2 linked regions of the Homo sapiens genome follow. The protein of the gene in region 2 interacts with the protein of the main gene of each other region in a pairwise test. Each region holds a gene or a part of one and is shown on either strand. Other genes may lie near its edges.

Region 1 (3,660 bases), about 73 Mb from region 2:
AGTATTTTCCAGGTGGTAATTAATGCTTTTCTAGCTTGAATGGCTAAAGCTTGTTTTCTTCTTCAAGTAGAATTAGTTGGAATGATAACTTGGTAAGCCATTTTGATGCTGTTGCATTTAATAACTGAGAGAGCTTAAATCTTTATGTCTTGTTTTTATATAAATATTCTTAACTATATTATACAGTAGAATACTAATATAGAATGTAGCACAAATGAGGCCTGATACATACTAGATTTATATGCCTTTTAGTGCATAACATTTTCTCAACTCAAACTATGCAAATAACTTTTTAACAAATGGAAATGTGTGGGTGTATATGTGTGTATGTGTGATTTCATTATTCAGTCTTTAACAGGGCAGTCTTTTAGGTAGTAGGCATACTTTTATCTATTTTTACTTTTAGTGTATTTTATAATATAAAATGTTATATATCTAACAGTAATGCTGCAATTCCAGCCTTTCATAGTTAATGTGGGAATTTTTCTGTGTTAGTAACACAGAGAAGAAAATGATTGATGTTGAGTCTCTGATAACCTTGTATAGCAAAGAAATTCATTGGGACATGTCCTAAAAGTATTTGGTGGGAAGATGTGAGGGCAACTCACCATGAAAGAAAAAATACTTTTTATTTAAGAGGGAAAACAGCTTTTACTTATTCAGTGATAAAACATCTACATAAATTAACGATTCTGTTTTCACTTTTAAATATTATTATTTGTCAGATAATATTGCTTGGGCTTTTTGGTCTTAACAATTATTTATTGAGTGACTCTTATGTGTCAGGCAATGATCTAGGTGCTGGGGATACCATGATAACAAATACTTTCATGACATCCTCATGAAAGTAGTATTCTAGCACTGAATATTCGCTTAGAAAATACTTTTTTTTTTTTTTTTGGTAATTGTTGGATGGAATTTTAAAAAACAGAATTGCCCTTTGTTCAGATATTTAATTGAATGTGTGATTTGGGACTGCCTTCACTTATTTTGTAGCTAGATAATTGAATAACAAGTATTATGGAGTACTGATAAGTAGTTTAACAGGGATATGTACAAAATTATGTCAAAACCCAGAGGAAGGACAGGAAAAGTCTCTTTAGCCAGTAAGAGACCATGGTTTAGTAGGGTAACTGCAAGTAATTAAGCATGATTGCCTACCTAGCATGGTGTCTAGTCAGAGTAGGTGTCTAGTAATATTCCTTAAGGCAGCAAATGAATGAATGAATGAATGAATAAAATTTCAGAGAAAAGAGGGAAAGGATGGAAAATTAGATGGGAAAGTTTATTTAGATTATGAAGGCCATCATTGTTTTTACTTTTTTGCTATTACTAATGGTATTCTAATGAATAGCCTTGTGAGTACCTCCTTGTACTCATGTATGAGAGTTTTCCTAAGAATAGCTGGGACATGTATACCTTTATACCTTCTTTTTTTTTGAGATGGATTCTGGCTCTGTCACTCAGGCTGGAGTGCAGTGGCACAATCTCGGCACACTGCAGTCTCCGCCTCCCGGGTTCAAGTGATTCTCCTGCTTCAGCGTTCTAAGTAGCTGGGATTACAGGCATGCACTACCATGCCCAACTAATTTTTTGTGTTTTAGTAGAGACAGGTTTTTGCCTTATTGGCTAGGCTGGTCTCGAACTCCTGACCTCAAGTTATCTGCCCGCCTTGGCCTCCCAAAATTCTGGCATTACAGGTGTGAGCCACTAGGCCTGGCCTATCCCTTCATCTCTACTGGTTATTGCTAAATTGTTTTCAAAAGGATTATTACCAGTTTACACTTGCACTTGCAATGTGTAAGTTTTCACAGACTGGGAGAAGATTTATAACATGTGCATAACTGACAGGTTAATTTAGAATTAGCTTCTGTGATTTCAGAAAAAAAATCCCAATGGGAAACATGGGCAAAGAATATGAACAGGCAACTCACAGAAGAGGAACTCAAATGCTCAAATATGTTTGTAAATGAAGGAATTACAAATATAAAATGTGTTTGTGTTGTCTTAACTTTGAAGAAGACTTGCAGACAGTTTGTTTTTATTTTTTGACAGAAATAAGGTACTGTTTAATGGGGAACTTTTGAACAGAACTACAGCTAGCACTTAGAGAGTCTCTGAACAGTTTAGGAAAAGGAGCTCCCTCTCGACATGCAAAGGAAAATGTCTCTTCACTAAGGTTCAAGGCTTGGCGAACAATGAAGGCCAGATTTTAGATCCACTTGTGCCAGGCACCGTTGTGCAAAGCACAATCTGCATATCTGTACATGATGCCCTGCCCCTGAAGCATGTCTGTGGAGTCTTAGGTTTCCACAAAGAACACTATGAAAATTACTGCTAAATGGGTGGTGTCATTGAAGGGCTTTAAGCAAGGAAGTGAGACTATTGTTTATTCTATGTGGTTTTAAGAATACTTTGCATTTGCAGAGAATGTTACAGAATTTCAAAGTATTTCAAAATATTTTTACAAGTAGACTTTCATTAAATCAGCACCAAAATCCCTAGTGGTATACGGGGTGTTTGTTTTATCCTAACTTTACATACAAAAAGCTGAGGTTAAAAGTATATTTTCATTTGTACCCCCACTTTTTCCAAAAGATAATAAAAGATTAAGTGAGCTGTACCACGGTCTCAGTTAGCCTCACAGCTATTAGAGTTTCTCTTGCTTTATTGGTTTTTAAAAAGATTTTATTGTAAATGAAACTAGATACGGAAAACCACACAATACCAATGTATAAATTAATGAGTTATAAGGCAAACGTCTAGAACTCTTGTAATTATAACTAAGTCAAGAAATAGAACTTTTCTAGGCACCCCACAAACTTTTCAATGTGCCCCATCCCAATCATAATCTTTCTTCCCCCCCAAAATAGCCATTATTCTTTCTTTTATAGTAATAATGGGCTTTGGCCCATATATTGTTCCCAGGACCTCTTAGTGCTAATTTGTCTTTTGACTCTCACTCAAGAAAGAATGTTGGAATATCACTGGTGAGACTGATAATATTATCAGGAATATTAGTTTTATATTTAAAAATACCCTGCCAACTTTACTACTCTATTGTTAGAAACAAATTACTTGCCACATACTATACAACCAACCTCAGCATACCAGTTGTAAATCACCATTTTAGACTGTGCGTCTTAGCTGCTTGAATATAGTGCTTTAAAAAATGCTTTGTAGTCCTCAAAAAACCTTAAATAACATTTTTATTAGTAGGAGAGTTGGGTAGCATACACAGCTGTAGAGCCAGAGGAGTTGGCAGTTTGCTGGAGCTACAATTTCTTATTATTTACAAAGAGCATATAGCACATAAGGCCTGATAACTGTCTCTTTTATTGAAGGAGACAAATTTTATAATCTGTTGTTTGTAAAACTGAACCAAACTCTGTCATTTACATAGTTAACTACAACTTAGTTATAAAGTATTTCCCTAGTGATGACAAATAGTCCCACTGTTTCAGTCACCACTTGACTGTTATGTGGCAGAGTGGCATGTATATTTATATGGTTTATTATTTATTTTATGGTGTATATGTATTTTCTGCCTCCTTAAAAAGTAATTGTTCTAAGGAGTGTTTAATGTTATATCTGTGTGCTATTCTAAGAATGCCTGAACAGTTTTTAGTGTCTGCTTCCCACTTACTTTCCCAGGCTTTA
Region 2 (3,660 bases):
AGACTGACACAGGTGTACATTTTAGATAACGTTGGCAGTCTGGATTTGAGGGTGAGTGATCTACATATAAGGATCCTATTTCAGTTGTCTTTTCAGAAATTCTGAGGGCCTGAACTAGCTGGTACAGTACAGTAGGGGTTGGATTCAAAGAAATATAGAAGGGAAAATAGACCGACTTCGTTAATGAATTGGCAGGAAGAAAGGGGGATCAATTATGATGCCAGTTTTCTGGGTGGATATTGGTAAATTAACTGAGATGAGGAACACATCAAGAAAGCAGTCAGATATTTGAATATGAAACTCAGGCTGAGTCAGAGCTGAGACTAGAGATTTGGGAAGCATCACCTTAGAGGTACTATAATGAAAGCCTGTGATTATATATCCTACAATAATAAGAATTAAGACATCATGTGATTGGCCATTGGCAGCTATCTTCCCATAACCATTTGTATTCAAATGGGGAGCTAAACTTAAGTGTTCTCAGCAGGGGGTTTGGTTTGACTGGAATGATGATGCTTCATTGTCAGTTCAGTATGCATTTTGTTGTGTACAGTGTTTTATTTTGTGATTTGAGTGTGTCTGTGTGTGTGTGAGGGAGAGACAGACACACATACTATAGAGTCTAAATGAAATCTGTCATTAATCTCTTAGTTTATACATTTGAATTTTTTGGACCCTGTTATAATGGGGTTATGCTAAAGTAAATATAGAAAGTAGATAAGCTTTCTCAAGGGGAGTGTGTAATTCTAAGTAAGTTATTAAATGTTTCCAAATCTCCATTTTCTCAAGTATAAAATGGGAATGGCAGTTCATAACTTTCTTGACTGTTTATTAGGATTAGAGTTAGTAACAACTGGTATATCTATCATGTACGCAATACATGGTACATATTATTGGATAGATAACTATGTTATGTACTTAGATATATTATGTTCTATATGTATATAATGTTATGTCATAGATAGTAAGAAAAGGATTTCCTAGCAGTTGAAAAAAATATATTTTGCAAAAATATCTATAAAATGTTCATCAGCCTTCAACATTTTTATTAGTCTATTTCTAATATATGAATGCCTCATATCAATATTAGAATAGTAAAAAATGTCAGAAGTTATATAACATTACCAATATGTTTAATGTGCCTTTTTATTAAATTTCTCATTCTTTTTTTTTTTTTTTTTTTTTTGAGATGGAGTCTCGCTCTGTCGCCAGGTGGAGTGCAGTGGCTCGCTGCAACCTCGACCTCCTGGGTTCAAGTGATTCTCCTGCCTCAGCCTCCCAAGTAGCTGGGACTACAGGCGTGTGCCACCACGCCCGGCTAATTTTTGTATTTTTAGTAGAGACGGGGTTTCACCATGTTGGCCAGGATGGTCTCGATCTCTTGACCTCATGATCCGCCCACCTCAGCCTCCCAAGGTGCTGGGATTACAAGCATGAGCCACTGCACCCGGCCATATTTCTCATTACATTTTTAAAAGACCTTATCTTACCTTATTCTCAGAGACCAATTGCATATTTTAATGGAAGATGATAACTGTTATGCTCCCAGGCAGTTATTTCATTTACTTCTCCTAGTAAGCTTTATTTTCCCCTATTTAACAAATGAAGAAACAGATTCAAAGAGGATAAGTACATTTTCTAGTCAACTTGTAATTATAAGAACCAGAATTAGTAGCCTGTAATCTTTCTAATATGTTCCTCTTTTCTCTTTTAAACTGTTAAACTGTATTATTTTTCAAATGTAGTTTCTCAGTTTGAACACCAGCTGGTTTAAAGTAATTACTTTAAAGTAATTAGGTGACCAGACTAGAAAATGGGATGCAGAATCTGGTTCTAGTTTTAGTTCTGACATTAGCCCGCAGAATATGATCTTTCAGAAAACAGAATCTTTGTAGGACTTTAATTATTTAATCTCTTCAATGGAAGGCTCCTTCTAGATATGAAAAACTGTATATTGATAGAAGGAGTACGAATTTCATCCTGAGTTATTACTTCTTAGCATTCTGCAGATTAATTTTTAGAACTCATTACATTTTGTTGCCAAGAAATCATGGATTTTTAAAAAAATTATACCTTGTAGGATTCAATTCAGCTAACATTATTGTGTGCAATTTCCAGTTTCTGAATTAGATGCGGAGTATATAGATATGAATAGGATAATCTACCCTGCAGGAATTTATGGTCTGTGGTAGATTATGTGACTCTCACTGATACACTGACATGGAAGAAGCTTAATTTTTCTTCCTTTTTTTTATTTTTTGGAGGTGAAATAGAGGAAAAGAGAGGGAAAAATTTAGTGATCAGATTGGAAAATAGCTCACACAGTATAGTTTTTTTTATAAAGCAGAAATATAGACATCATATAAAATACTATGCTTGGTATTGGAAGGATATTTGCAAAATAAATTATAAAGCCTCTCACCTTAAGGAGTTTCAGTCTTATTGAATGAAACAATACTCATTTTAAAAAATTAGCTAATAGATTAAAGTCAATAAAGAAAGCATTATATAATTTCCAACATTAATAGCACCAATGGGAGTACATTCGGGATTCCAAGTTGGAAGAAATTAAGCTGGAGTGACTGGCAGATATTTTATGGAAAAGATAGAATTGGAAACTAATTTTATATTGTTGGAGAAGAAAAATAATAATACTTTGAGTAAATAATGTAATATACATGGCATATTCCAGAATAGCAAAGAGATCTCTCTGGTAAGAGCAGAGATTTCACATTGAGAAGTTGTGGGTGGTATTGTTGTAGAGATTGGTTGGAGCTAGATTGTAGATGATTTTCGCGTCCAGCTGAATTGGCAATGATGAATACTAAAACTTTGAACAAGAGATAACAGGATGAAAACAATTTTAGTCTGCCAGAGATACATAATAGTCAATAGTGGCTGCAATCAGAAAAACAACATCAGCAAAATACTGTAGGGATGAGAATGATGAGTGCTAGACACATCTGATGAGGATCTCATGTAGATGGTGGAAGTCACAATGATGAAGAAAGAAAAGATGGATGAAATGGGTTAAAAAGAAAACCGTATAGACTTGATGATTCAGTATGCATTTATTAAATGTTTGCCTTTTGTAAGGACATATGCAAGGTTCTGTGGATGAATTTAAAGTAAATAAGAATGATGATAAAGACAAATCAGCAATGACTAGGTGATTTGAAACCTATATGATGTGGAAAATATTGGCGCTGCCATATGATTGAATGGTAGGATAGACTACTACTTTTCAATAGAGAGTAATTTTAACTTCGTAGATTTAAAGTGATGGGATTAAAATGTTTGGTAAGACATCACAAATATGGAACTGATGTCAATTCCAGTAGGGGACAGGAATAAAAGGATATAACTATGGGAGTCATTATTCCAAAGAAGATAGTTGAAAATAGTTGAAGCCGTGAGAATTGTTGCAGTCTTTTTTTTTTTTTTTTTTTTTTGAGACTGAGTCTTGCTTTGTCGCCCAGGCTGGAGTGCAGTGGCGCGATCTCAGCTCACTGCAAGCTCCGCCGCCTCCTCACTCCATTGTCCTACCTCAGCCTCCTGAGTAGCTGGGACTACAGGCGCTTGCTACCACGCCCGGCTAATTTTTTTTTTTTTTTTTTTTTTGTATTTTTAGTAGAGATGGGGTTTCACTGTGTTAGCCAG

Evidence for each region. Proteins that work in one complex are often made in the same cells at the same time.
Region 1: the proteins of LRIF1 (region 2) and TSEN15 interact in binary tests that used the Homo sapiens proteins (3 or more experiments, as listed by UniProt).

Annotation. Positions count from the first base shown.
Region 1 is NC_000001.11:184,058,149-184,061,808, forward strand, and holds part of TSEN15 (tRNA-splicing endonuclease subunit Sen15), read left to right. Parts: intron 1-12; exon of another isoform or gene 13-92; intron 93-3,660. UniProt on the Homo sapiens protein: Non-catalytic subunit of the tRNA-splicing endonuclease complex, a complex responsible for identification and cleavage of the splice sites in pre-tRNA. It cleaves pre-tRNA at the 5' and 3' splice sites to release the intron.
Region 2 is NC_000001.11:110,957,263-110,960,922, reverse strand, and holds part of LRIF1 (ligand-dependent nuclear receptor-interacting factor 1), read left to right. Parts: intron 1-3,660. UniProt on the Homo sapiens protein: Together with SMCHD1, involved in chromosome X inactivation in females by promoting the compaction of heterochromatin.